Linked DNA regions of Homo sapiens: regions 1, 2 and 3 are each reported to be linked to region 4. Evidence: microRNA targets listed by miRTarBase, many of them from high-throughput screens and not tested one by one. Region 4 holds a microRNA gene; each other region holds the end of a gene's coding sequence. Distances are between the middles of the regions.

Region 1 (8,126 bases), not on the chromosome of region 4:
CAAATATTAAAATTCTAAATAAAAAAATTTTCCCCGCTAGTATAAAGTAGAAGTTCTATAGTGGAAATAACAATGAAAACAGATGAAAAATCAGTGAAGAAATAGAGGGAGGTACTACTAAAATTTTGTGTTTGAGAGGAAAAAGAGAAAGGTAAAAAATAATTCTGGGAATATTTAAATCAGTAATTGAATACATGTAGTGATGTCTTTAAAGCACCTTCAAGAAAGACCTCTTTCATTTTGGATGACAATACATTAGGATAAATGAAATATGTGAATATGGCAATTTTCCATAAAAACAAAGGAGACTATGGAGACTGTCTGGTTCCTGATTTGGCCATACAAAATATAGAAAATTCAAGTGACCCAGGTTCCACAGTCCCAATTCTGTCAAATTCCGATCCAACAATTTGTAAAATGGATAACATCTGTATACTTCCACTGTATATGAAAAAGAATGAGCAGCTCATAGGGCTACTTAAAAAAAAAAATGGCCAAGGTGAATATATAGTCATTTATTTGTGCAAAAATGCCAAAGAAATGCTGAGATGTCTTCTGTAAAAAACAGTAAATTACTGGTTTTACCTATCCCTAACCCTTATTTTTGACACAACTATCTAAAATGTTCACTAGTTAACCAAACATTTACTCAGCATGTGAATCCATGCTAAGTTTGAGGATAAAAGGATGCAGAAGAGAAAGATATTCTTTATTACAAGCTTTCCAACATCATGATCAAAATTACAAATAATTTTCAAGGCTGTTGTAAGAAGTCAACATTAAATGTTAAGTTTAAGCATAGATTACTACTATTTATGAAACAGATTTCTTCCTTTTGAAAGGTGTGTATAAAATGTGATGTAAATCAAATCTACTTATCCTTCTCCTGCAGTGCAAAATTACTTGTACTTTTGGGGAAGATAATTCCCTAATAAACTAAATTAAGGTCTCTTGGATAGAAATTCAGTTTCTCTCTTCATACAGCCACAAAGGGTACTATCTTTTCATTCAGTCCCTTAAGCAGCTTACTCTTCAATGCCAACAAAACTTTATTTTTTAAATAGTCTTAAAAGTGCTTAAGGGAGTTCTGGTTCCTCTTTTTAGCCTGCACAGTTTAAGATCAATGGTAAAGGTAGGAAATAATCATAAGGGCACTGGAAGAAGGAATGAGTCTAAATAATGTATAATGACTGTTCCGCCATACCAATTTTGTCATGGTGATTATTCACTAATTTTATAGGAGAGTGTATTGAGATCTGCTACAGCTTCTTGGATCTTTGAAGCACTGCTGAATTACATACACAAAGCAGAGCAGATGTCAGCACCTGATTAATCAGTACTCTACTACTGGCTAGATTCCCCAGGCAAGTCACTTAAATTATCTCCAAACAGCTTCCTCATCTGTAAAATAAGGATAAAAATTCCTTCCTCACAGAGATGTTATGAGAATTAGAGGAGATTTGAAAATGCTCCGTCAATCATAAAATCATGCAAAATTATTCCTTTGTAGAAATTTGAGGATTAAATGTAATAACATGAAGGCCACACTAACCGCCTGGCACATAAATACTTAATAAAAGTTATTCCCCATTCTCACTTTCTGTGTAATTTGCAGTTAGGAAATATAAATCAAAGACACCCTTGTCAGACTCACATCCATTTGGCTTTAACTAGAACTGTCCTTCCCTGCTCCTTTTCTTTTTTTTTTTTTTTTTTTTTTGGATACATAATCTTTCACTGTATTTGAGGCTATCTTGAGTCTCTGGTTGAGATCTGGGTCACTAAGGCTTCTGGGGGATCATGTCTTCAACAAGCCTTCCAATGAATGTCCAAAGAAAAACATATAATTTCCTTTTATTTTTTTTTTTACCAAAGTTCTTATGAATTGGAAAATAATTTGTTTCAAAGACGGTGATGAAAGGAAAAAAAAAGTTTAACTTTCCAAAGGTAATGCTTTCATGAAGAGTTAGAAATAGCAGTTTTAGTAATTAGTTGTAGGAATTCTGGTTAAGACTTCAACATTTTACCTTACTTAAAAGATTTGCTTTATGCAACATTTAATGCCCAGTTTTGCATGGCTCTAAAAATCTTTAAAATGCAAAAGCTTTTCCAGTGACTGGAAGCCAACACGACAAGAATGAAATGGTATGACCTGTGAATTAGCCTGGTTTATAAAAAAATACCAGTTCAGAGACCATAAACAAAATAAAGAAACTAAGCAATCCTTAAATTGGATTTAGCCTTGGGCAATTAGCAGAAAAATTCACTCATAAAAGGATCCATTTTACAGATATTGTTTTTTAAAATGTCAGGAACTGGTTTTATAAGAGTAAAAAAGTTAAAATTAATTGCATCTTCCATAAAGAATATGATGGAAATAATTATATACGAAAAATGAGACAATAAAAGTCCATTTATAAAGTGCCTTAATGTACCAAAAAAGGAGGTCAGATGTCCTTTATTTACAAATCATATTTAATCCCATTTACAGAAAGGCAAATATTACACTGGAGAGGCAGCATAATAGAGTATAAAGAACTCTCAACTTCGAGTCAGAAGATCTGAATCTTTTTGGCTTTGCCACTAATTTTCTCTGTGACTTTGAGCAAATGAGAGTTTTTCTGGGCTTCGGTTTTCTCATCTGTAAAATGAGAGGTAGAACTACACTGCTTCTAAAGCCAGTCCTTGCTTAGATGTAAAATTCTGTGTTAAGCAATGTAAATATGGTTCTTAAGTTTTGGAATTACATAACAGGGTTCTACCATATTAATAATCTCTGTAAAAACTGATTATTCCATAATAGGTAGGTAAAAACATTATAGAACTGTGATCAAATACATTTTGAGTTCATGATTTGGCTGCTGTACAAAGGTGCAAAAAAGGCATAGCATTTTGGTTACTGATATACACGTGTAGGTTTTCAGGAATGCTGACAAATTCCAGATATAAGGGAAATGACAGCACAAGGAACACTGACCTACAGATAAACTAGATACTGTCCTTCACAAAGATGCATGGGGAGTTAGCAAACTGAGGAAGCTGTGGATATGTTAAGCCCTTCATCTTGAGGAATATAATCTATGTTTAAAAAACCAAAGCTAGTGGCTGAGCACGGTGGCTCACACCTGTAGTCTCAGCACTTTGGGAGGCCGAGGCAGGAGGATGACCTGAGGTCAGGAGTCCAAGACCACCCTGGCCAACGTGGTGAAACCCTGTCTCTGCTAAAAACACAAAAATTAGCCGGGCGTGGTGGCGTGCACCTGTAATTCCAGTTACTCAGGGAGCTGAGACAGGAGAATCACTTGAACCCGGGAGGTGGAGGTTGCAGTGAGCTGAGACTGCGCCACTACACTCCAGCCTGGGCGACAAGAGTGAAATTCCATCTAATACAAACAAACAAAAAAAACAAAAAAACAAAACCAAAGATAGTATAGCTATATTTCTGTTTGGGAAGGTTTACCAGGCAAGGTAAACTGTCCCTGAGCAATACAAATTTGTTGTCCAGAGAATATTTTGGCTTTTAAAATATTGGCAAAGTTACACTCAGATACGAGTTTTGTTTGGTTTTTTTAAGAGTTAGCTCAATATCAGGGACATTGTAAATTAATTTTATAACAATAATCTGGTAGTATTTCTCATTGGAATTATCTACTTTAGTAATATACATGTGCCAAGAACACTAATAAGACAAAATATTTCCTAAGAGTGACAAAAAGTTGCTTTTTCTCACTAATTTTTTACTGCTGCACACATAGGTATACTGGCATTTAATTAAAGCATAAATGTTAATGCCAACTTGCTAAATGATATGCGCTGGCAATGTAATGTAACAAATGCAAATTCACATCAGTCTAACACTGTATAAACATACTCATGCATTTGTGTACTGATAGTACAGTCAAATAAAATGATTCATATTTTGACAAAAACTAAACTTGGAATGGAGGGCTCTGTGAAAGGCAGACTTGGGTCTTCAAATATCTCCGTATGTGAAATATCAGTATTTATACATAATCAGTTTTTAAAGGCACACATCCAAAAGCTCCCTTCATCTAGATCTGTCATTTTCTCTATCTAATATGCCAAAACCCACAGAATATCCCAGAGTTCTCTCAGACTTGGTGGTGGTTGCAAACTTCTAATGACTACTTATATTTGTAGAAAAACCAGTACCATTATCAGGACACTTCCTTTTGAACTTTCCTGCTTAAAAGACCTCAACAGTTGTTTTAAGCACATACTACTGCAGTAAATCATAGATTTCAAACCACCTGGCAGTAAGCAAACATGTTTAGAAAATGCCACTTTGCCTGCGGAAAAGAGACTATTGATAGAGTTCACGGCAATCTGCAGCAGTTTAGAAAAGAATGAAGAAAGTGGTCTAGTTCTCCTAATAGAGAGTAGTTTATAGTTGTAGGTCAGAAATAGGGGAAAAGACACTCTAAAACTTAGAATCAACAGGGATTTCTGCCACATCACTAAAAAGTACTTATTGATCTACATTCTTAATAATTGTTTCCATCCTGCAGGGTTTTTTCTCCCACATTTACAATTTTTTTAAGTTAAAAGGGAATATGTATTGTAAAATGAAGTATAAGGGAAAATCAGATCATTTTCTCTTCATAAAACACAGAGAATACTTAAGTAGAGTGCTCAAGCACTTATCTCGAATTGCAATTTTATTTTTCAAATACGTAAGAACCTAGAAAATCAACTCAGCACTTACTTCCTAGATACCTGTGTTAGGAAAAGTTCTACATCACCACATTTCCTCTGTACCTTTAATAATTCAAACTCAATAAAATGCTGCTTTAGGATTCCTGAAAGCAATTGTATTTGTGCAAAGCCTAAACAGGAAAACAAAGTGGATGACTTGGCATTTGAAGAATGAAAAAGCCAAACAGCACTGTCACAACCATTTCTGCCTTCAGTCTCCAATGCCTTTTTCTTTCATTATAAAATCCATAGAAATGGCAAGGAAAGATATAGGAAAGTTTATCACAGATACAGTAGCTATTACAGAAATTTGGAATTCAGCAGATGTTTTAAGTCAAAATTTTCTGTGTAACAGATGAATTTGCAAAGTTTTGAAAACACAGTCCACAAAGTAATTTAAAATGTGATAATTAAATTTGTTTTAAAAAGCAAATTAACACCTTTTATTTTCTGTGAAGATAAAACAATAAAAGAAAAATGTTCATATATCCAAACCTATGCTGGAAGTACACAAAAAGACAATTTGTATACATTACTGGCAATAGTCTTGTTTTGTACAGGATATTTTACAGAATATCCATTGTTAAAAAAAAAAAAAAAAAAAAAAAAAAACATAGCCGGGCGTGGTGGCTCACACCTGTAATCCCAGCACTTTGGGAGGCTGAGGTGGACGGATCACGAGGTCAAGAGATCAAGACCATCCTGGCCAACATGGTGAAACCCCATCTCTACTAAAAATGCAAAAATTAGCTGGGCATGGTGGCACACGCCCATAGTCGCAGCTACTCAGAAGGCTGAGGCAGGAGAATAGCTTGAACCCGGGAAGCAGAGGTTGCAGTGAGCTGAGATTATGCCACTGCACTCCAGCCTGGCTACAGAGCGAGACTCCATCTCAAAAAATAAAAAATAAAAACAAAAATAAAACATACATGACTCTTGATGGTACATTTCTATGCTGGCAAATACATTTTTGGATACAAAGGCACTTTGAAAACCCAATATGGTTTGGTTCATAAGTTTGCAAGGTACAAACAATTTAACAAACATGATTATACTGAAGAACGTCAACAATTATGACATTACGTATAGCACAGATTTCCAATTTCTTTCTTTTTTTAAAAAAAAGTAATACTGGTTTTGTGGGAATGAAAGCAGTGATTTCCAGCAGCTGCAGTGAAGACATTCCAGAAGACTGGAGGCCCACAACTGAAATTCTTACTGGCTGGGATGAGAGGATGGTGGTGTGGGCATTCAACATGAAAACAAACAAACAGAAAACAAAAACAAAAAAAGAAAGACAAAAGGACAAATTAACATCCTAAGCTAAAAACCTCAGAAGTCAAAAAGATTTGGAGGAAAGAGCACAAAAGAAAAGACCAAAAGTCCAGGAGATATCCTCTTAAATCTGATCCCTTAGCTGTGAACTCCCCACAAAGCATGAACGGCTGACTCTACCCCGTCTACTTAGTGCTCGGGAGTTGTAGTGATAATTTCTCTCTTTTAAAAAGCTGGGTACAATGTTTTGGATCGTACAGTACCAGAAAAATTTGGTCCATAAAAGGTGCATAATTTCTTTCCATTCACTACATGGCTGCAAAGTCAATCTGTACGTAGAGCTGTCTCACTCCAGCCTGAAAAGTAAGAAAAAAAAAAGTTAGAAAATCTAACAAGCTAATAACACCCTACACATTTCAGGAAAGTATTTTTTTTCTTTTACAAATCTCACTTTTTTAAAAAAAGAAAAGAATCATTTCAGAAACAAATATATTCATAAGCTACAAAAAATAATCTCCATTTACCACTACAAAAAAACAAACAAAAAAAAAAGAGCCATGTTAACAGTCACACACCCTATCCAGATATCCAGGTGATACTTAGAAAAATGCAGTTCACCTTCTACAGTTACTCTGTTAGAGGACACCATGATGCTTGACTGGTTGGCTCCTAGTTGAAATTGATACATCAACCCTGTCTAAATCCTCCTGTGATAAATGATTAGTAAACAATTTAGCAAGTATAACCATCTATTGGAATTATTTTGCACTCCAAGTTCTCTCTTCTGTTTTGGATATGAACTTGCTACTCAAGGATACTGCTCTCTAAATTCTCCCCAATATCTTCTGTATTATCAATTTACTTCCTCTCAACTAGATCACTTCTATTAGCATACAAACACACTGTAGCTGTTTCTATCTTTGAAAAAACCTCATGAGAAATTATCTTTTGGGTACAATGTACACTATTCAGGTGATAGTTGCACTAAAAGCCCAAACTTCACTACTACGCAATATATCCTAGTAACAAAACTGCACTTGTACCCCCTAAAGCTATTTAAAACAACAACAAAAAGCAACAAAAATCTTTACTTAACCCTACATCCCCTTCTGGGCTCCCCATCTCCGCTCTTCTTTACAGCAAAAAGCCTCAAAAGAGTTATCCATATTTGCTGTCTAAAATCCTTTTTCTCACTTCTCTCTTGAACTCATTTCAACCAATCTTTTGCTTCCCAACACTTCCCCCAAACTGTGTCCAGGTCACTTCCACATTGCTTACATTAATATCCAATTCTCAGGCCTCTTCTTCCTACTTCACCTATCAGCAATAATACAGATGGTCACTCCTGCCTATAGATATATATATTTTCCCTTTTGGCTTCCAGAGAATATTCACTGGCTGCCCTTTTACCTCACTTATCAGTCTTTCTCAGTCTTCTCTGCTAGTTCTTCCTCCTCTCTGAAAACTGAAATCGCCAAAGGCTAAAGAAAAAAATAAAGCTTGGTACAAGAGCTGGTAAATACCTCAGCACTCCCAGTAAACTTATCACCTTGCGATGTATTATACAACTTATTCACGGTGTTTATTGTTTATTATTGACCTCTCACTATAATATAATGTCTCCGAGATAAAGGATTTGGTCTTCTTCTTTACATTGCTGACTCCTAGAACCTCAAGTGAGAGCCAGCACACAGTAAGTGATCAATAAGTATTTGTTGAATTAACTAAAATTCTACTAATTTCCTTCTTTCAACCCAAAATGATCTATTTTTAATTAAAGGAACCCATTAGTCACAATAAGCCCTTTCTTCTCAGTACCACAGAATAAAAGGTAAATTGGAATATTTAATAGGAAAAAAATCAGAGTGAGGAAAAAATCTATTAGCACTACCTTCTTACAGTAATTTCTGGACTCCTCAAAGCACTGTTTCCTAGCTTGGCTTTTTTTCTAGAATTCAGGTAGGAGGGCTCTGTACAATACTGAGTGCTTGAAAGGATTCAGGAACTACTCGAATGGATAAAAGGCTTGCAGGCTCTAGAAGCTTGTCAGCAAAAGAAATATATTTTAATTTTGCTGGTGCTTCTCCTTTTTTTTCTTTTTTTTTTTCCTGTGGAAAGTTAAAGCCTCTGTTATT
Region 2 (8,126 bases), not on the chromosome of region 4:
TGGAGAAAGGGTGGTTCTCCTGCCATTTGGTTGTGTGATTAGAAGACAGCCCTTTGTCACACAGTTGTCGGCCTGCCTGTGATATTCCCGGCTATGGCCAAGATGTGTGAGGTAAGCCCCGGGTTCCTCCCACTTCCGTGTATTCCTGAGGACTCTGCTTTCCCACACTGAGTTTTGCATCTTCTCACAGGGAATTTCTATGGCTTCTCTGTACTTTGCTAATTATATGCACATTAATCATGGTGACCTGGTTACAGGCTATGGTTTCAAGAGAAGATAAAGTTCCCAATTGGTATCTGATGGGCAAAACAGGTACAGATGGACCCCCTGGGCTTTGCCCCTGTTGAGCTCATGATCACTACTAACCACCCCCCAGATGCTGGGCCACTGGCACTCTATCAGCTGCCCTATACATGGGTCTGGGCTGCTAGAGGTACCTGGTCTTCCAGTGGTCCCTTCAACAGTCCCTTTCCTGTGGCCAGTCTGCCCTAAGCAAGTTTTCTAACCTCTAGCCTTGTTGCATGGACTAGTAGTGGGCACTGACCGTCACTTTCAAGACCAAACAGTATCAGTGTTTGTTGCTAATACTAAGTGTGTCTGGAGGCTGGGTGTGGTGGCTCAGACTTATAATCCCAGCACTTTGGGAGGCCATGGTGGGAGAAGCTCAGGAGTCTGAGACCAGCATGGGCAAAATAGTGAGAGCCCGTCTTTAGGGGGGTGAAAAAAAAGTGGGCTTATTTGATGGAATTGCTGAAGTGCTATAATCATCGCTGAATCGTCTACGTAACTCTGCAAGCAGAATTACTTCTATCTGATCCAAACTCTGCTTTTGGCAGAGGAAGGGAAACCATCTCACAGGAGAAGAGTGACTTGGACAAGATCTCCACAGGCTTCAAAGCTGGCCTTCTCTTTCCTTTGTGCCACAGTATGATTTAGGACTGATAGGGACCCTCCCACCAATGGCCTCATCTTTTTTTATTTGTTTCTTCTTCTAGCTGAGGCAAGAGTTGGGGAGATAGAGAAAAGAGAAAAACGACTAAGGTTGGCTTAAAGCTGTGGTGTGACCAGGAGTACAATCTACTCCCAGCGTATGAAACAGTTATTTCTTCTTCTTTCTTTTGGGGAGGGGCCAGATCAGGTGACCAGAACTATCTAAAGCCTGCAGGTCTTAGAAAACATGTTTTGGCTGTGCTTCACATTTTACTTTTTGTTTTTTGAGATGAAGTCTTGCTCTGTCACCCAGGCTGGAGTGCAGTGGCGCTCCACCGTTCATAGCAACCTCCACCGTTCACAGCAACCTCTGTCTCCTGGGTTCAAGGGATCTTCCCCCACCTCAGCCCCCAAAATAGCTACAGGCATGTGCCACCATGGCAGGCTAATTGTTCTATTTTTTTCTTAGAGATGGGGTCTCACTATATTGCTCAGGCTGGTCTCAAACTCCTGACCTCAAGCAATCCTTCTGCCTCGGCCTCCCAAAGTGCTGGGATTACAGGAATGAGCTGCCACGCCCAGCCACATTTTACTTTTTAAATGAAAATGAAAAGCCTAACAGGAATATTGACTCAGCAAGTTTTTATTATGCACCTGTGGGTTTGTGACGATGCCAAGGGATCAGAGGAACAAAGAGAGAGGATGTTGCTCAGATGGGGGTCTCAACCTCCAGAGCAAGGTGGACACAAAGCTCCAGCCAGCTGCCCAGCCCCTGGGGTGGGAGGGAAGGATCGAGGGGTAGCTGTTGTCAGATAAGGCCAAAGGTATCAGTGGCCAAAAGGGAGACAAAGATCTCCTGGGTGCAGCCTCCTCCACCACTGTGGTGAAGGGTGTTGGGCTGGAGGGTTGGCCGACCTCTCCTGAGAGCACGTTCCCCCTGCTGCTCCTGCTGCATGGCATCAACCTGGGTTTCAGTTACATTACCCAGGAGGATTTCCAAATCCAGAGGCAATGTGGCCTTCCATTTCCTGAGGTGCCTTGGTTGGCTCTGGATCAGTGGTGGGGACTCAAGAGACAGCCTCCCTGTGGCTTCCAGCCCCTCACATTCCCTTTGTCGCTTTCTCCTTCATGATGTGGTTTTACACAGAAAAACACTCTGGTAAGTAGAACAGTGTTCTTCTCTTGAGTCAGACGTCTGAAGCAGGAAGGTGAATAACCTTCCCAAGACCTTAGAGCTACAGAGAGAATCCTCAGCACAGGTAGGAGCACACAGGTAGGTGGGGTAAACGTGTACAGAGAGCCTGGCTTCTACTTGGAATTTTCCCCTCCCTTGGCCTTAAAAATCGGATTTCTCCCTTTTCCAGCTATGTTGATACAAGAGACAAACTATTTAGAAAGTAAAAGCCTCAACCGTTTATTTTGTGTTCAAAGTATAACCAAATGATTTTATTGCATTTACTGCTCCTGGGCATGCAGATGCATCTACACAGAAACAGCAGTTGTGGTTATAAAATCTTTTAACGAGTTTGGGGCAGAGGCTTTTTAATTATTTTTGAGACAGAGTCTCATTCTGTCACCTAGCTTGTGCAGTGGCATGATCTCGGCTTACTGCAACTTCTGCCTCCCAGACTCAAGCAATCCTCCCACCTCAGCCTCCAGAGTAGCTGGGACCGCAAACGTCAACACCACACCCAGCTAATTTTTTGCATTTTTGGTACAGACGGGGTTTTGCCATGTGGCCCAGGCTGGTGTCACTGAGCTAGGCAATCCACCCACCTTGGTTTCCCAAAGTGCTAGGATTACAGGTGTGAGCCACTGCACCCAGCCCAGAGTTTTCCTGATGTGAAAATTACGTGAGTGACAAGGAGCACCAGGAGCCTTGCCTGACTTACTGTCTGTTGGTAGGATGTGACATATGAATAATACAAAATACCCGTCTGGTTTGACTTGCAGATTAAATCACTGCTAGACTACAGCCTTGATGCCCTCTCTTGCTGACCCTAGCCAACATAACCAGTCTTCCAGGAACAATACCATGTTTTAAATTGCTTGAGGTTTCACTACCTGCTGTCACTCTCAGTCCGGAATCCCAGCAGGAGACACAGCTCCAGCTGGCCTGCCCAGCCCCCATCAGAAGGCAGGGAGGAAGGGGAATTTGTCAGCGTTTACGGCTATTGAGTATGATTCTTCCATGCAGAGGACACCTGCCCTAAATGCTGAAACTTGGGTCTGAACCCTGCCTTTGATGGAATTGTGAGCAAGCTCACTCAAGTTTGTATTGACTCATCTGTAAATTAGGAATGATATAGCATACCTCACGTTTATCTGGAGTCATGGGCTGAATGCTGTCCCTTTCAAATTCCGATGTTGAAGTCCCAACCTCTAGTACCTCAGAATGTGACCTTATTGGTAAACGGTTGCTGCGGATACAGATGAGGTTATACTGGAGTCGGTGGGATGGGCTCTAATCCGATATGACTGGTGTCCTTAAACAAAGGGAGGTTTGGAGACAGACACGCACACAGCAAGAGTGCCATGTGGAGATGAAGGCAGAGACTGGGTGACGCTTCCACACACCAAGGAATGGCAACTGCCAGCAAAGGCATGAAGCCGCTTCTCCCTCACAGCTCTCGGAAGGCACCAACTCTGAGGACACCCTGATCTTGGACGTGCACCTCCCAGAACTGTCAGGGAATACACTCCTGTTGTTCTAAGCCAGCCAGTGTTTGGACACACCAGCACTCCAAGCTAATGTATCTATCAAGTGTGTTGTCAGGCAAGGTTCTGTTCTGGAGCTTGGCTCACCCAGACAGGAGAACCCCTCACTGGGGGCAGAGCTCCACATTCCTAGACAGGACAGATTGGAAGAAGGGACTTAAGTGCCTTTTAAACGATGACAACTCCGCTTCCAACCCACAAGCATTTACCAAGGATCTTTGGGGTATAAAGACATTATGGGGTAGGTGTGCAACACAAATTAAAATGTAAGCTTTGTTTTTGGTGAGCTCCAGATCCCTAGTGATTGGCCCCCAGGAAAATCAACAGGTATGACGACTGTTTCCAAACCTCAAGAAGGAGCTCTGCAGACCCCTGCCACAGAGGCCAGCCCAAAAGGGCTGCCTGATCATCTTGGATCTGCGGGGTGCTCCTGCCTACCTGATGGCCACGAATCTGGGGCTCAGACATGACATGTCTGGCTCAGTGTGCCTGGCCCTGCTCCCCACTGAGCCCATCAGTCCCACCCTGCCTTCTTCTTTCCTCTAGTCCAACATCCGCCAGCAGCTTCTCAGTGGAAGTGCAGGCATCCTGGAGCTTCAGGAGCAGATCCTAGCGTTCAGACAGGGAAGGAGGGGAGGGAGTATACTGAGGTTTGGCTGGTGACCAGGGTGCCGCCCTGACGGGGGATAGCCCAGTTTTACTCCCCGAGCTTGGGGAGCATGGGCCAAGGGTCTCTAAGACGCAGAACACCTGGCATGTCCAACCTGGTGATGGCACATCCCCCCCGTTTTTTGGCACAGCAGAAACAGAACACTCACTTGGCCACTCTTTCATTACCTGGGGGAGGGAGAGTGCTCCCATGGCACCACCCGAACGCTCACTACCTGAGAGCAAGGACAGGAGGGAGGTGTGCTCTCTATCCTGGGGAAGGTATGTCCTGGGTGGGGGCGCTGATCAGTACCAAGGTGAGGGGGCAGCACCAGCCAGGGTGAGGCCGCCCCAGGCGGAGAGGCTCAGTAGGAGTTCAGAGCCTGCTTGGAACGGCGCTTCATGTGCAGGCGCTCGTGGCGGAGGAGGTCATAGTTCTGCGTGAAGCTCTTGACGCAGTACCGGCACTGGAAGGGCCGGGCTTTGTCCTTCAGGTGAAAGTGGCTGCGGTGCCGAGCCAGGTGGTCGTGCCGCTGGAAGGCCTTCCCACACTCACAGCACTGGAAGCTCAGTTTGGCCTTGCCGTTTTCCAGCGGCTCTTTGGGACCCTTGTCCGCGTCCTCGGATGCCGCCTGCTCTCTCTTCTCCACCGGCTGGAGTCTGTCCGGCTGCAGGTGTATCCGCCGGTGGGAGAGCAGGTGGGAGTTCAGGCGGAAGCTCTTCCCGCAGGCACCACACCGGTAAGGCTTCTGGGCCTCGTGGCTCTCTAGGTGCCCATCCAGGTCCTCGCTGTCGCTGAACAGCTCCCCGCACACCGAGCACTCGTGCGGCTTCTCCTGCTCCCTGCGGCTCCGCAGATGCCGGATGAAGTTGACCCTCCAGCGGAAGATTTTCCCACAGTTCGGACACACGTAGGACTTCTTGGAGGTCTGCACCTCGCCTCCGGCCTCGGTGCTGCTCCGGTGGGAGGCGGGGAGGCTGCGCTGCTTCTCTGTGGGGCTCCCCAGCTCTTCTGTGCAGTACGGGCCATGCTGGGAGTCCTCGTCCCCAGAGCTGGAGAGAACGATCTCGATGGTCACTTCTTCATCCAGGCTGTTCTCTAGAGATCGCGGGTTGCCGCCAGCTACAGGAAGGCAACATGCAGGTCAGCGACGCTGCACAGGCCACATCCCAGCCCCTATGACCGCGGCGGAGGAACACTCAGCTTGGAGTTTACAAACCCGTGTTTTTACAATGGTCCTCGGTGACCGGGGCGGCCTGGCCAGCCCTGCAGGGGCCACTGGTGTAGCCTGTGAGGAAGAAATCTTCAGCATGGGCCCCGCTGTGTCCAGAGCATGCTGGGCACCTTGCTCTCCCTCTTCCCAGCCATTTTCCCTTATCTCCACCCCCAACCCTTTTGTTCTCTACCCACGGAGACCACCCCATCCCCCCAAGCTCTAGGAGTCTGTATTTATCTGGGTAAAGCCTTGACCATTTACAGATCATGCACTTAACAAGGCATGGGGGAAAGCTCTATCAGGATAGTGAAAGGACTTGAGAGAGGAAGACTCTACAACCTACACATATCATGTGCTGGGCACTTGCATGCTCCAGGGACTGTGCTAGACTTGACATGCACATTCCTATTTGCTCCTGGACGCAACCCGATGACCTATTGGTTGCCATGTTTACACATAAACTAAGGTGATCTGTGCCAGGAAGGAGGGCTGAAATGCTACTCAGCCTTGCTAGGCTGCTCAACAGTCCCAGACTGCCCAGAGTCCTGGGTCCCCCACAGCTCCCCGGCTCCCAGTAGCACCGCATTTCTGAGGCCACAGGTGGTGATGGATAAAGCTGCTCTGGACTTCCTGCATCCTGAGTCTGTGATGTTGGGAAGGTGGAACCACGGGGCGGGGCTGGGTGGACAGTGCAGAGCCCGGCCTGAGGTCCCGGCTTATGGAGCAGAGCCCACCATACAGGTGGCCTGTTTCCTCACTGCTGTGAAATGTAGAACTCAAATCTAGAACTTGGGGGGAGTGAACCAGGCCCTCCCAGATAAGAGTAGGAACATGGTTAGTCTGGGCTTCATGACTGTGGGGAGGAGAGCCCTGGCTAGTCAGAGCAGCTCAGGACAGGAGAAGTTGGACAAACAGAAGCAGGGCAGGAAGACACAGAGGCTATGGAGAGCAGAGAGATAAAGGGCAATGGTGGAAGCGGAGGGGGCATTTGTCCCTCAGTCACAAGGGGGTCGGGGGAACATGAGTCTGGGAGTGGGTACTGAGTCTGCCAAGAACCCACGTAGTATAGGAGGGAAATCATCAGATGAAGACAGAGATTGTGTTTGTGTGTGTGCATGTGTTTTTAATTTTTTGTACAGATGGGGTCACATTATGTTGCCCAGGCTGGTCTCAAACTCCTGGGCTCAAGCGAGCCACCCATCTCAGGTGATCCACCTGCCTCAGCCTCCCAAAGTGCTGGGATTACAGGTGTGAGCCACTGCGCCCGCCGAGAGGCTATGTTTGACGCTTATCTCGACTCTTGGTTTTCGAGCTGCAGGAACCTCGTTCCAGCCAGACAGCTTCTCTGAGCTTGGGTCATCTCGTCTACAAGGTGAGAATGACAGTGGCAGCCCGTTGCTCTAAGCTGCTGGTGGGGCAGGTGAGGTCATGTGTATGATGTACTTTGTGGACCTCATGGGGTGGAGACAAGAGCAAGGTGTAACTTTTACCAGGCTGCCGATGACAAGGTACTTGATCAGCAGTTGACTTCTGTTAATGGACTTGGGTGGAAGAAGAAAACAAAGTGACAAGGTGGACCGCTAAGATCTCTTACTTGTTAACTGGGCGAGGAGATGGAATTATGAGAGCAGACAGTGCATGTTATGGGCGAAATTGTGTCCCCCTGAAAATTTACATGATGAAGCCCTAACCCATAGAGCCTCAGAATGTGATTACTTGGAGATAGGGTCTTTCAAGAAGTAATTAAGTCAAAATGAAGTCAGATGGTGGGGCCAATCCAAAATCACTGGTCTTCTAAGAGGAGGAGACTGGAGGCAGACTTCAACAGAGGGAAGGACCCTGTGAGGACACAGCAAGATGGGAGCCGTCTCCAAGACGAGAAAGGCCTTGGAAGACACCAGCTCTGCTGAAGCCTTGATTCTGGACTTGTTGCTTCTGGAATTGTAAGAAAGTAAGTTTCTGTTGTTTAAGTCACCCAGCCTGTGGTACCTTGTTATGGTAGCCACAGTAGACTAACATAGACTTTGGCACCAGGAAGTAGGGTGCAGCTAAAACAAAGACCAAAAACTGTCGAAGTGATTTTAGAACTAGGTCATGGGGAGAGGCCAGGAGAGTTCTGAAGTGCATGTTTAAAAAGCCTTGAGGAAGTGGCTGGTAGAAATACGGACGTTATAGGAAATTGGAGAAAAGGAGATCCTCCAATTATAAAGTGGCAAAGAATTTGGCCAAACCATATTCAACTGTTCTGTGGAAACAGAAATTGTAAGTAAGGAACTCGGATACTGAGCTGAGGAGGTATCGAAGCAAAGTGTCAAAGGCAAAGACTAGTTTTTTGCCGCTTATAGTGAAACGTGAGATGAGAGAGATAAACTGAAGAAGGAATTGTTGTAGCAAAAAGGAACCATGACTTCAAGATTTGGAAAATTCTGTCTATCCATACGGCAAAAAATAAGAAAGCGTGCACTGGAGAGACACCAAGAGTGTGGCTGGCTCATCATTTGTTAAAGAGATTCTGGGTATGATTCACGGATCCAATCAACCATCTCAACAGAAGCCAGGAACAGAGATGAGGTTATCCAGGAAGGTCTATGGAGGACACCCTCGTCTGACGGC
Region 3 (5,878 bases), 50 Mb from region 4:
CAGATCGCTGAAAAGGAGCAGGAGCTGTTGGCCTCTCAAGAGACCGTGCAGGTGAGGGGTCTAGGAAGGCTGCGGGTGGGGGCTCGCGGCCAGCAGAGGCCGGGCAGGAGGGAGCAGACCGCCAGGCTTGACGCCTGCGCGGTGCGGCTTAGGTCCTGCAGATGAAGGTAAGGCGCCTGGAGCACCTGCTCCAGCTCAAGAATGTGCGGATCGAAGACCTCTCCCGGCGGCTCCAGCAGGCGGAGCGTAAGCAGCGGTGAGCGGCGGCCCGGGCCGCGCGGGGACGCCCGGGTACCCGCCAGAGCCCCGACGCCGCGCCGGACCCACCCACCGATGGATAGACCATTGGGAGGGCGGAGCCCGCTGCTCTCACGAGCCTGCTGGGGCCCGAGTGCCCTCCTTCCTTGGGATGGGTGAGCGTGGGAGGAGATGGGACAGGAACTCTAGGAGCGCAGGCCCGGGACTGAGCCGCCTCCTACCACTCCGGAGATCCGGGTCAGGAGAATGGACCGCTTTCCAGAGCCCAGAAGCCACGTGCAGAGACCTAGCCTGTCCCCCAAAGCAGTGTCCAACACCTTGGGCCCGGCCTTGCATCTCCCGGCGCTGGGCCTTGGGGGGCGGTCCCTTGGCTCTGTCCACACCCCCAGAATCAGGTCCCCGCCCAGCTCCGAGGACGGCGGCGTCTCCATCCAGGCTAGTTCCCCATGCCCTCAGCCATGGGGGAATCTGTCCCGGGCCGCTGAGGGGCTCCCCTGCCCCTCCTGGGAGCTTACCTGGGACCCACCTCGGCGACGGAGACCGCAGCAGCTGGAGAGGAAGGGGTGAGGCGTGGGATCGCCAGGAGTAGGGAGGACATCGACGATGTGCCCGTAGCAGTCGCCCCTCCCTCCTCGCGCACGGGGTACTGAGGCGGAAGGTTTGAAGGTTACGGCTCAGGGCTGCCCCATTAAAGTCAGTGTTGTGTTCTATTTCCTGTGCCTGCCTTCTCTTTTTGCATCTGAGGGGAGCCAGTTTCTTCTTCACTTGTCCTCCATCTCCCCACCCCCGCCTTGAGTGAAAGAGCTTTCTGGACCCAGAGTGGATCTCATCTTGTGGGTGGCTGGGTCCTGTGCGGCCACAGCTTGGTAGGTTGATGATATCACCAGGGGTCAGGTTTTGCACAGGATGACAGCCTAACTTCTAACCCTGGCCTTAGATTGACCCCCAAACCCACCCTCACAGTGTTCTCCAACCTTGTCCAAACCCAACCCCAAACCAGACTTCAAATTGTTCCCAAATGTGGCCACACACTCACCCTCAACCCTACGTAAGGACTGACCCCTAACTCGGCCCTCTGTACGACTCCAACCCTGCCCACAGACAATCCCAACTTCCATGGATTGAGGCCAGGCTTTACTCCCAACCCTGGCCAACACACTACAGCCATGGCATGACCCTAACTTTAATGGTTTTCTGACTACCAGTAATGTGGAACATTTGTAAATCCTGAGATCCAGCTGGGCATGGTGGCTCAGGCCTGTAATCCCACCACTTTGGGAGGCCAAGGCAGGTGGGTCACTTGAGGCCAGGAGTTCAAGACCAGCCTGGCCAATGGTGAAAACCCATCTCTATTAAAAATACGAACAATTAGCCAGGCGTGGTGGCGGGCACCTGTAGTCCCAGCTACTTGGGAAGCTGAGGCAGGAGAATTGCTTGAAGCTGGGGGGCAGAGGTTGCAGTGAGCCAAGATCGCACCACTGCACTCCAGCCTAGGCAACAGAAGGACACTCTGTCTCAAAACAAAACAAACATCCTGAGATCTAACAATTCCATTCCTAGGCATATACCCAGCACATACCCAAGGGAAACCTAGGCTCTTGTGTTCTGTGTTCTGGGAGACATGTTACAACAACGTTCATAGCAACACTCTTTTTGTTTGGTTTTGTTTTTTTTAAAATGGAGTCTTGCTCTGTCGTCCAGGCTGGAGTGCAATTGCACGATCTCGGCTCACTGCAACCTCCACCTCCTGAGTTCAAGCGATTCTCCTGCCTGAGCCTCTCAAGTATGTGAGATTACAGGTGCATGCCACCACATCTGGCTAATTTTTTATATTTTTGGTAGAGACAGGTTTCACCATGTTGGCTAGGCTGGCCTCGAACTCCTGACCTCAAGTGATCCACCTGCCTTGGCCTCCAAAAGTGCTGGGATTACAGGCGTGAGCCACCATGCCTGGCCCACAGAAACACTCTTTGTAATAGCAAAAGAAATGAAAAGAACCTGTATACATTATCTCTTACTGTGTAGCAAATTATCACCAATGTAGCAGCTTAGAACAACAAATACTTATTATTATATCTCACATTTTCTGTGGGTCAAGAGTCCAGGCCAGGCTTGGCTGGGTCCTCCACTTCAATGTTTCCTACAAGGCTGCAAGCAAAGGGCCAATAGAACTGCAGTCTCATCTGAAGGCACAACTGAGGAAGGATCCAGGCTTCCAGGCTTACTTGGTTGCTGACTGAATTTACTTCCTAGTGGGCTGTCAAACTGAAAGCTTCAGTGTTTTACTCATTGTTGGCCAATAGCCACTCTCATTTCCTTGACACATAGCCATCTCCAGTATGGTAGCTTACTTCATCAAAGACAGGAAAGGAGAGAGTTGATAGAGTCTATTACCAACAAGGGAGTTACAGGCCTGGTGCTGTGGCAGAGGTGCACTTCTCAGAGACAGACTTAGCTATATCTGGATACCAGGAGCAGAAGCCTCAAAGAGGAAGAACCATCAGGACCTGGCCCAGCCTTTGCCATGTAGGAGGCCAATAGGTGAGGTCGTGATACCAGCCATCAAACCTGTCTTCTGGGCCCACAGTGCTACTGCTAAGGCAGAACTGTTAGCCTGCCCTGTCTCCTGGTCCTCGGGCCACTCCATCAGCCATTCCTACTATCTTTACATATAGCAGCCTACAGGTGAGGTTACATGGATAAAAGTTTCAGGGAATAGAACTCCGGGGGCCTATTGCAGACTATGGAGAGATCGTGGTGCTATAGCAAGGGTCAGTGTGTGTGAAGGGCTAACGGTTAGTTTGGGGCAAGTGGAGGGTCAGGTGGAGCCAGTGTTAAACTAAGACCAGGTGGAGTGCATGGATGGGGCTCAGAACAAGGTCAGGAGTAGTTGGCAATTTTTATTTCATTTATTATTGAATATTTTAAATATTACTGAATTGGACTAAATATAATCCTTGGTTCATGACACTCTCTCCCCATTTGTCCATAATCAACTCACTTATGAACACCTATAAATCCACCACCTGCCCCAAGAATGGAATTATTACAAATAACTTTCACCGGCCATGTGCTTCTTGCATCTCTCCCCCTTGCTTCCACTCAGAGATAACCACCATCCTAGATTTCATCCTTTCATTGCTTTTTCCTCCTTGTAGTAGACAGCTCCTAACGTGGCTCCCAGTAATCCCTGCCTCCTGGACGTCACCCCCATGTGTACCCTTTCCTTGAATGTAGGCTGGACTTAGTGACTTGCTTCTGATAAGTAGAATACAGCAAATGTGATAGGATGTCAACTTTTGTGATTACATTAGATAAGATTATAACTCCCTTATTTTTAATTTAATTTTTAAAAAATTTTTCTTTCTTTCTTTTTTTTTGTTTTGAGACAGAGTATTGCTCTGTCACCCAGGCTGGAGTGCAGTGGTATGATCTCGGCTCACTGCACTCTCCACTTCCCTGGTTCAAGTGATTCCTCTGTCTCAGCCTCCCAAGTAGCTGGGATTACAGGCACACGCCACCACACCCGGCTACTTTTTGTATTTTTAGTAGAGACGGGGTTCCACCATATTGGTCAGGCTGGTCTCAAACTCCTGACCTCAGGTGATCCACCAGCCTCGGCCTCCTAAAGTGCTGGGATTACAGCCGTGAGCCACCGCACCCAGCCCTAACTCCCTTCTTTTTTAGAGACAGGGTTTTACTCTGTCGCCCAGGCTGGAGTGCAGTGGCACAATCTTGGCTCACTGCAACCCCAGCCTCCCAAGTTCAAGCAATCTTTACACCTCAGCCTCTAGAATAGGTGGGAGGACAGGTGCATACCACCATATCCAGCTAATTTTTTTTTTTTATGAGATGTCTCACTCTGTCATCCAGGCTGGAGTGCAGCGGCATGATCTCGGCTCACTGCAACCTCTGCCTCCCAGGTTCAAGCTATTCTCCTGCCTCAGCCTCCTGAGTTGCTGGAATTACAGGCACCTGCCACTACGCCCAACTAATTTTTGTATCTTCAGTAGAGATGGTGTTTCACCATGTTGGCCTAGTTGGTCTCGAACTGCTAACCTCAGGTGATCCACCCACCTCGGCCTCCCAAAGTGCTGGGATTACAGGTGTGAGCCACTGCTCCTGGGCTTTTTTTTTTTTTTTTTTTTTTTTTTTTTTTGTAGAGACAGGATTTCGCTTTGTTACCCAGGCTGGTCTCCAACTCCTAGGTTCAAGTGAGCCTCTTGCCTCAGCCTCCCAAAATGCTGGGATTACATGTGTGAGCCACTGTGCCTGGCCCCTCTCCTCTCTCTAACCGACACTAAATCTGCTATCTTCTGGTTCATTCATTCGTTCTTTCCTCTATTTATTGAGTACCTACTATGTACTAAATACCAGGAATACAAAAGTGAGTATAAAACATGATTTGTTCCCTCCAGTGTTCACAACCCTACAGGAGAGGAAGGCATGCAAGGGTATTTAAACTTTGTTACTTAATGTTTTGAATAGATAAAACATATATATGATTTAAAAAAAACACATAAAAAGTGAAAAGTCTTCTTATTCCCAGCACATCTCTAATAGGGAACCTCTATCTTTAGTTTTTATGTATCCTTCCGGAATGACTTTATGTGACTATAAACAAACATGCACATTTGTCTTACTCTTATTTTTGAGAGAAGAGTCTTGTTTTGTCACCCTGGCTGGAGTGTAGTGGCACAATTTCAGTTAACTGCACCCTCCACCTCCTGGGTTCAAGTGATTCTCGTGCCTCGGCCTCCTGAGTAGCTGGGACTACAGGCTCATGCCACCATGCCCAGCTAATTTTTATGTATTTAGTAGAGGCAGGTTTCACCATGTTGACCCGAACACCTGAGCTCGAGTGAGCCGCCCGCCTCGGCCTCCCAAAGTGCTGGGAAAACAGGGGTAAACCACCGCACCCGGCTAAGGTTAACATTTAAATCAGCAGATGAGGCCGGGCACGGTGGCTCACGCCTGTAATCCCAGCACTTTGGGAGGCCGAGGCGGGCTAATCACCTGAGGTCAGGCATTCAAGACCAGCCTGGTCAACATGGCGAAACCCCGTCTCTACTAAAAATACAAAAATTAGCCGGGCGTGGTGGTGATTGCCTGTAACCCCAGCTACTCAGGAAGCTGAGGCAGGAGAATCGCTTGAACCCGGGAGGTGGAGGTTGCAGGGAACCAAGATCATGCCACGGCACTCCAGCCTGGGCAACAGAGTGAGAATCCATTTCAAAAACAAAAGGAAAAAAGAAAGAAATCAGCAGATGAGTGAAACAGATTTCCCTCTCTAATGTGAGTGGGCCACATCCAGTCAGTTGAGACCTAAATAGAAGAAAAAGGCTGGCCCTCCCCAAATAAGAGAGAATTTTTATTGCCTGGTGGTCTTTGAACTGGAACATCAGCTTTTTTCTCGCCTTTGGGATCAAACTGAAACATTGATTCTTCCTTGGTCTCAAACCTGCTGCCCTTTGGACTGGAGATACATCATTGACTTTCCTGGCTCTCAGGCATTGGGACTCAGACTGGAACTAAACCATTGGCTCTCCTGGGTCTCCAACTTGCCAACCCAACCTGCAGCTCTTGGGACTGGTCAGACTCCATAATTGTGTGAGTCAAT
Region 4 (8,126 bases):
GTAGCCAGGTGTCACCTAGGGATCTGCATTTCTGAAAAGCACGTGAGTAAATTCGTCTGTGGTGGTGAAATAGCGCAAGCCCTCTGCCTGGGCTCCCCTCTGGCTCACCCTGGCCATATGCATAAGCCCTGGCTCCGTGTCTGAGAAGTGAGGGGTGGAGGGAAGGACCATAATAGATTCCTTGCGTGGAGCTCCTGTGAAGATTAGAAGGGTGTGGCCCATGTGTTGTATAACTGGGTGGCTGGTGCACAGCAGCTGAGGAATAGAGATAAGCTGTTAGTATAAGCAGTAAATAAAATGGACCATACATTAGCAGTAGTAATACCTAATATTTTTGTAGCGCCTACCTTATGCCAGCCATTGCTCTGAATGCTTCTCTGTGTTAACTCACAGCTTCCTTATCAGAACCCGATGAGGCAGGTATTTTTTTTCTTTTTTTTTTTTTGAGGCGAAGTCTGGCTCTGTCGCCCAGGCTGGAGTGCAGTGGCGCCATTTCGGCTCACTGCAAGCTCCGTCTCCCGGGTTCACACCATTCTCCTGCCTCAGTCTCCCGAGTAGCTGGGACTACAGGCGCCTGCCACCACGCCCGGCTAATTTTTTGTATTTTTGGTAGAGACGGGGTTTCCCCGTGTTAGCCAGGATGGTCTCGATCTCCTGACCTCGTGATCCGCCCGCCTTGGCCTCCCAAAGTGCTGGGATTACAGGCGTGAGCCACCGGGCCCGGCCGAGGCAGGTATTTTTATTGTCCCCATTTTACAGATGCAGAACCTGAGCCCAGGGAACTTAAACTCCTCACTTAAGATCATGCTATGGATTGAAATGTGTCCTTCCAAAATTCGTGTTGGATTCGTGTTGAAGCCCTAACGTGCAATATGACTGCATTTGGAAATGTGGCCTCTAAGGAATCAAGGCTAAATGAAATCAGAAGGGTGGACCTTGATCTGATAGAATTAGTGTCATTATAAAAAGAGACACCAAAGAGCTCTCTCTGTCTCTCTCTCAACCGTGTGAGGACACAGCAAGAAGGCAGCTGTTGGCTAGCCAGAAAGAGTGGTCTCACCAGAAATGCATCGGCCAGAACCTTGATCTTGGACTTCCAGCCTCCAGAACTATGAGAAAACAAAAATGACTGTTGTTTAAGCCACCTAGTCTGTGGTGTTTTGGTTACCACAGCCCAAGCTGACTAATACAGATCATCTTCTAGTAAGTGGGAGAATGAGGACTTAACCCTCGCAAACTCAAGTCCAGAGTTTAGACTTTTAACTTTTCTATTTTCATACTTTCTACTGTCTCTTCTGCTGTATAAGTGATGTTATAGTTTTATGAAATATTTATATGTAATATAATAGAACATGGAATAGAAAATATTTCCTGCATATTCATTCTTGCAATGAGAAAATTATAACTAGGCAAGGAATATATATGGTACAATCTAAAGTGAGGATTAGGCCGGGCGCTGTGGCTCATGCCTGTAATCCCAGCAGTTTGGGAGGCTGAGGTGGGTGGATCACTTGAGGTCAGGTGTTTGAGACCATCCTGGCCAACATGGCGCAACCCTGTCTCTACTAAAAATACAAAAATTAGCCAGATGTGGAGGCACAATGCCTGTAATCCCAGCTACTTGGGAGGCTGAGGCAGGAGAATCGCTTGAACCCAGGAAGCGGAGGTTGCAGTGAGCCGAGATCACACCGCTGCACTCCAGCCTGAGCGACAGAATGAAACTCTCTCAATAAGTAAATAAATAAATCAAATAAAGTGAGGATTGAACAATTGAAGGGTCACTGATAATCACTGTAAGGATTTAGCGCCAGGGCTTGGCAGTACTCAGGTGAGTAAACGTTAGTTATTGCTAATATTATTCATTTATCTTATTATTGTTATAATTGAGTTAGTTCTGTGTTCTGATCCATGAGTGAATTGGCCTCCTGGAAGCTGCCCTCAAATCCCTCCTCTTTTACACAGTGATTGATGGTCCATGTCGCCTCCTTGTAGTTACAGATTAATAATAGGCCCTCCTCCTGGAAACAGGCCAAACGCCAAACCCCATGCAAGCTGGCCTGGAGAAAGCACTTCTGAAACTTCATCACCAGCAGGCAGCTAGACGACTGTTGAATGGGAGGGGGGGTGGTTTTGAAGGGTGGAATGGTGACAGAATTAGTCACCAAGTAAACAAGCAACACCTTCGATCAATGCAATGGAATGTAGGTAACCCAGGGGCCCTCCTCACTGCTCAGCTGAGGGTGACGCCAACATGGCCAGGCTGGCACACCCAGCAGAACCAGCCCTCTGCCCCCAACATCAGTAAAGACCTTGCAGGAGGAAAGAACAACCCCGCTTTGCCTGCCCCACAGTCCTGCAGCTCCATGTGTGTGCCCGCACAGTGCTAGGAACACGGCAGCTATTATCAGGAGTGCCAGGTACAGTGCTACAGGTTGCCTCCTGTACAAGGGGACACAGGGAACTGAAATCCAGTCCTCACTGAACTGCCCAAGCCCTGATTCCTGGTATGGGACTTTGTGGGTCCAGGGGCAGGGGTGCCTTGATCAAAATCACCTTGGATGTTTTAGGGCTGCTTGGTGATTGATGTTTTGCTTTCGGAGTACTTAATTATGTTTGCACAAACGGATGGTAATCCTAAAAATCTTAGAGCTCGCTCTCATAGTCTTATTATTGCACCAAACATTGTTAAGTGCATGATAATCGCAGGTAATTTTAATTGGAGGCTTACTATGTGCCAGGCAGCACCAGGGTGAGCATAGCAGGACACAAAATATAGGAAGGCAACCATCTCTGGTGCAGAATCGGCAGCAGAGAGTGAGCGCCTCCCTGCATTTTATCCCCCAGGTGCTCACTGGCTTCACCCTTGCCCTGACCCTGGTGCCAGGCACTTCACACACATTGTCTCCTTTTCCCTTGCAGAGTCCCATTATTCCCTGATTGCACAGATAAAGAAACCAAGGCTGAGCAATGCCATCCCCTCATCTCACGAACGTCACCTCCATGAGGGTAGGCACCTTACTAGTCCTACTTGCCCAAGAGTAGCAGTCAGAAAGCTACGGGGAGGCACACCTGGGGTTTGAACCTGGGTCCACGTGACTCAGGCACTCAAATCCTGAACTGCTTCAGGGCAGGGCACTTGGCTTGAAGAGAAGCTGCAGACACAGAGACAATCAAGTCACATCTAATACTCCAGCAGGACAGATGAGCCTGCAAGGTGCAAAGGTACCCCCGCCCCCAACCCAAAGCCTTTTTCAATTCCTCTCCCTCCACATCTCTTGTCATGGTAAAGCAGGCAGAATCCATGGGCTTTAACGGGCCCATTGCTTTTCCCAAAGCTCATGCCTTTTTCCTAAAAACAAAACCCTTCTGGGTTCCAGAACTCTTTGGAAAAAAAGAATCTTCTGTGATTTGGGACATTGGTTTGTTCCCCCACCCTCACTTAAATGAGAAACTACTTTAGCATGCCCCGCCCCGTCTGTTGTCTTTATTTAGGAGGAAGCACCCTCTACATACCCTGAGTATATACACCCAGGGCCTGAAGCTGCTGTGATCAGCTCAGGATCCCCAGGAGGCTGAGGCGGATCAGGCCCTGGACTCCGGGGGAACAATGTAAGGGACACCAAAAAGCTCAGCCATGGAGATGAATAGTATTTTAACATGAAATTTGTGAAAATCAAAATTACCGCTGTTCCTGATCTTATCTTTCTGTAACATGTTCATAGTTTGTTCATCACGGGTGTCTTGCCATTAATTCTGACTTTTAAAAATGTTGTGTTAACATACCGTTTATCTCCATGACTGAGTTTTTTGGCATCCCTTACATTTCGTGCCCAAGGTGAGAGTCTCACTGGCTGCACCCTCATCCCAGGCCCGACTGGACTCCAGTTCCACAGCATCCTTTCCATGAGACCTGGAACCAGATGCAGCTCCCTCTTCACCCAGCTTCATGTTCCTAGTTGTAAAATGGAGACGATGGTAACAGCGAAAACAAGAACCACAGCTAAGAGTTACTAAGTGCACAGGTATTTACGGGCAGTAGAGTCCTCTCAGCCCTTTGATCTCAGTACTGTTATTAGGTTCACTTTACAGATGAGGAAACTGAGGCCCAGAGGGCTGAGGGAACCTGCTCCAGGGCACCCAGCCAGCCCAGGGTGGAGCTGGGGCTGGCATCTGGCGGTGTGGCTGCAGCGCACCCGCATTCTAATCGCAATGACTCTTCCAGGCAGGAAACTGGTTCAGAGGGAGATGTAAACAGCAGGGGTCCTGAAGCCAGGATTTGAATCAGCAGCTGCCTCATAGGGTGGTCTTGAGCGTTAAATAAGATTCACAAAAGGCACTCCACAAGTCCTTTTTCTTGTCCTCCCACTTCTTTAGGCAATGCCTGAGGTGAAGGCTCAGATTCCACTCGGCTATGGGGCATTCTTGCCCTGACGGATCCCCAAATCACACAGCCTATCCCTCCATCCAGTGACTTCTCCCCATGTCCTGTGCTTGAAATGACCCTCAATAGTTCCACCAAATAGGAGTTATTTATGTGGCTATGCGCCTAACACTGACCACATTGTCATTTGCTCCTTGTAAAACTAAAAACTTTGAGATGAGTGCTATCTTTGGGTCCATTTCACAGATAGTGGAACTGAGGCTTACACATATCCAAGGCCACACAGTGAACAGAAGGCAGAGCTGGGATCAAACTTGACCCTGTCTGACCCCTGGCCTCTATATGACACCGTCTACCACAAACAGCAAACCCTCCAGCCATGCCTAAAGGATCTGAAAGCAGTTACCTGCTGAGCCCCTGTGGGAGTATCTTCAGTCCCCTCGTGTCACCCGGAGCTGCTCCTGCACAGGGTCCTGGGTCTCCAGTGCGTGCTGCCCAGTGCCTGGCTGTCGGTGGAGCCTGGCTCCCTGCACTTTGCTTCCTTGTGCAGAGCCTGCTGGCTGAATACACAGAGCAGGGCAAACACAAGCCTGGGTGGAGTCCTCCCTTCTCCCCGGACCATCCTGCAGAAACAGGTTCTCTTCCTGATGTGGGGCTGCCCTCCCAACTCCAATAAAAACTGAGCACCTGACTCCTCTCGCATTAATGCCTCCCTGGCACCCCAAGTATTCTACCCAGTGCCCCTCACCTACTGAGGCTGCCGGGTTGACCTGGGGAAGCAGTTTCCTTCCCCAGTAACCGTAGGTCATGGTCAGAGCAGGGAAAACACGTTCTGTGAGATTTTGTAGTTCTGTCTGCTGACTTCAGAACACCACCTCCACCACCACCTAACCACCTAATTGGAAGGAAATAGCTTCTCATCCACTCAACTACCCCTAGTCATGTAAACCTTATTCCCAAAGGGGTTTGGACACCAGAAATCAGGTAACCTGAGGGTGGTTTATTGCTCTGGAGACATACCATGATGTTGGAAAGGGCATTCTTTTTCTTTGCAGGCCAGAAATTCGACAGGCTATGCAATTTATTTAATTCAAGCAAGGATGTTGTTTAAAGTGTCTTACAAGGACATATACAATAGATTATGAGAGCATGAAATAACATGTAACAAAAGAAGATTGAAGAACAAAATTTGGAACATCAAATGAGAACAGGATCAAAAATAAATGCTCTTGTTGATTTACAGACTTGCTATGAAGGGTTTGCAGATATGGCTTTGAGCTTCCTAACAGCCAATGCAAGAAAGGAAACTTGATAAGTTACACTACTTAGTGCTCTGGAGAAGACATTCAAGAGAATTGCGACCAATAATTATTGTGGTTTTATTCAACAGTATACTCAGCTTAACCCCTATCATGAATACTTGTCAAGCACCAGGCTATATATATAAGCCAGAGTTTAAAGAGGTGAGTAAAAGATGCTGGGTCTCTACCCTTCTTGCACTCAGTGTCATTGGACATAGAATCCTGTAAATATAAACATAGAATTACAGGGTGTGATTCTCATTATAAAAGAAAAGCCAAGGCAGCTAAGGGAGAGAAATAGAGAGAGCTGGGGAAGGCCTCTTTCAGAAATCAACATTTAAGAAAAAAAATACTATTTAAATAAATGCTGAATACACAACCAGGCACACCGTAATTAGGGTTGTAAAGTCGATTCCAGCTCAGCACTGTACATGTCAATCTGGAATGTAGTAAACCCAATTATTAAGCAGCTGCCATGCACACGCTCTGTGCTGACCCAAGCCTGGAGGCTCAGGAGCTTGAGCTCTGGCCCTGGGTTGAGACAGACAAGGGCTCGGATCTTGATTCTTACTGATCGGCTGTGGAATTATGAGCAAGCTACTGTACTTCCCTAAGTCTCTGTCAGCCCCCTCAGCTGTGTGCTCCTTTGTGTTTATTTTGCATCTATTCTTGTATCCCCAACTCCTGGCACCCTGCAAAACGAGGATGGGGATCCCTCTATGATAGAGTAGGTACTCTGCAACTCCTGGCTGATTGGACTTGTTCATTCTTTTTTTTTTTTTTTTTAAGACGGAGTCTTGCTTTGTCATCCAGACTGGAGTGCAGTGGTGTTATCTCGGCTCACTGCAACCTCTGCCTCCCAGGTTCAAGCAATTCTGTTGCCTCAGCCTCCTAAGTAGCTGGGACTACAGGTGTGCACCACCATGCCTGGCTAATTTTTGTATTTTTAGTAGAGGTGGGGTTTCTCCATGTTGGCCAGGCTGGTCTGGAACTCCTGACCTCAAGTGATCCACCCGCCTCAGTCTCCCAAAGTGCTGGGATTATAGGCGTGAGCTAACACTCCCCATTGTCTTGCTCTCTTTTAAATTATACATGGCAGTAACTGCCATTTGGATGGCATTAGTCTTTGCAAAGCCTTTTGTGTTTATCCGTCCATTTCATTTATGTCCACAGTGAAATTAAGATCTTTTGCTCCCATTTTACAGAAGAAAAACATAAGGTTTAGGGATATGAGTGATTTAGGAGATTAAGAAAAATCATTCAGGTGGGGGCACTCAGCAGTGTGTCTGGCAAAACGTAGACCATCACCAAGCATCAGCTGGTGTAGTCAAGGGTGTTGATGAAGGATCTGGCAAACTGTAGACCATCACCAAGGATCAGCTGGTGTAGTCAGGAGTGGTGATGAAGGGTCTGGCAAACTGTAGACCATCACCAAAGATCAGCTGGTGTAGTCAGGAGTGGTGATGAAGGATCTGGCAAACTGTAGATCATCACCAAGGATCAGCTGGTGTAGTCAGGAGTGGTGATGAAGGGTCTGGCAAACTGTAGACCATCATCAAGCATCAGCTGGTGTAGTCAGGAGTGGTGATGAAGGATCTGGCAAACTGTAGATCATCACCAAGGATCAGCTGGTGTAGTCAGGAGTGGTGATGAAGGGTCTGGCAAACTGTAGACCATCACCAAGCATCAGCTGGTGTAGTCAGGAGTGGTGATGAAGGATCTGGCAAACTGTAGATCATTACCAAGGATCAGCTGGTGTAGTCAGGAGTGGTGATGAAGGGTCTGGCAAACTGTAGACCATCACCAAGCATCAGCTGGTGTAGTCAGGAGTGGTGATGAAGGGTCTGGCAAACTGTAGACCATCACCAAGCATCAGCTGGTGTAGTCAGGAGTGGTGATGAAGGGTCTGGCAAACTGTAGACCATCACCAAGCATCAGCTGGTGTAGTCAGGAGTGGTGATGAGGCAGGACCGGCTACATAATCTGCTGAACCCAGTGCAAAACAAAAACGATGAGCCCTTTGTTCTAAAAGCAGGGAAAAGTACCGTTAAAGGTATGAAACATAAAGCTGTTTTCTCTCCTTCCTGGTCTCTTTCTCTACCTGTCATGTATTTTACTTATTATTTGAAGTCATTCTAAGGGAAGAAAAAATAAAAATGTAAGTGATCAGCGTGAGTTTTGCCATCCGTCTTTAGATCAAGCCATGCTGGTTTGAAATGCAATGAACTCGAGGGCAGAATCACCAAAATCATACGACTTGTATTTTGTAGTTAGTTACGGGGCCCCCGTAGTCTGTTCTCACTAAAACAGTGTAAACGCTGCATAGAAGTCATCATTCAACTGTTTTTACTCTACCTCTGGATACTCACCCATTCTACTAATGCTCTCTATCTTCAGTTTATTGATGAATAAGGAAAAATCAAAAGAAAAAGAAACTCTAAGCT

Evidence for each region. Region 4 holds the annotated microRNA hsa-miR-4756-5p (CAGGGAGGCGCUCACUCUCUGCU, at 2,807-2,829, opposite strand). A microRNA usually pairs through its seed, bases 2 to 8, with sites in the 3' UTR of a target mRNA and lowers its output. Matches are read on the target gene's strand: a 7mer-m8 pairs with bases 2 to 8, a 7mer-A1 pairs with bases 2 to 7 and ends in A, and an 8mer does both.
Region 1: miRTarBase lists SLC30A7 as a target of hsa-miR-4756-5p. Seed matches in the 3' UTR shown: 7mer-m8 at 106-112.
Region 2: miRTarBase lists ZNF496 as a target of hsa-miR-4756-5p. Seed matches in the 3' UTR shown: 7mer-m8 at 4,550-4,556, 7mer-m8 at 3,426-3,432 and 7mer-m8 at 3,070-3,076.
Region 3: the mRNA of SPEF1 is a reported target of hsa-miR-4756-5p. Seed matches in the 3' UTR shown: 7mer-m8 at 882-888.

What each region holds. Positions count from the first base shown.
Region 1 is chr1:100,973,031-100,981,156 of GRCh38, reverse strand. It overlaps SLC30A7 (solute carrier family 30 member 7), which reads right to left. Exons shown (of 11, transcript NM_133496.5): 11 at 1-6,347. The coding sequence ends at 6,300. Among named protein-coding and RNA genes, the nearest start is that of DPH5, 49 kb to the left of the region's middle.
Region 2 is chr1:247,295,858-247,303,983 of GRCh38, forward strand. ZNF496 (zinc finger protein 496) reads right to left here. Exons shown (of 10, transcript NM_032752.3): 10 at 1,558-5,419. The coding sequence ends at 4,662. Among named protein-coding and RNA genes, the nearest start is that of ZNF496, 32 kb to the right of the region's middle. RefSeq lists enhancers at 3,066-3,965, 3,966-4,864.
Region 3 is chr20:3,772,594-3,778,471 of GRCh38, reverse strand. SPEF1 (sperm flagellar 1) reads left to right here. Exons shown (of 7, transcript NM_015417.5): 6 at 1-51; 7 at 153-968. The coding sequence ends at 260. Among named protein-coding and RNA genes, the nearest start is that of SPEF1, 5.9 kb to the left of the region's middle. RefSeq lists an enhancer at 1-6 and a silencer at 142-391.
Region 4 is chr20:54,065,646-54,073,771 of GRCh38, forward strand. MIR4756 (microRNA 4756) reads right to left here and starts at 2,840; the gene lies at 2,763-2,840. BCAS1 (brain enriched myelin associated protein 1) reads right to left here and starts at 4,949. Exons shown (of 13, transcript NM_001366298.2): 1 at 4,788-4,949. RefSeq lists an enhancer at 3,668-4,542.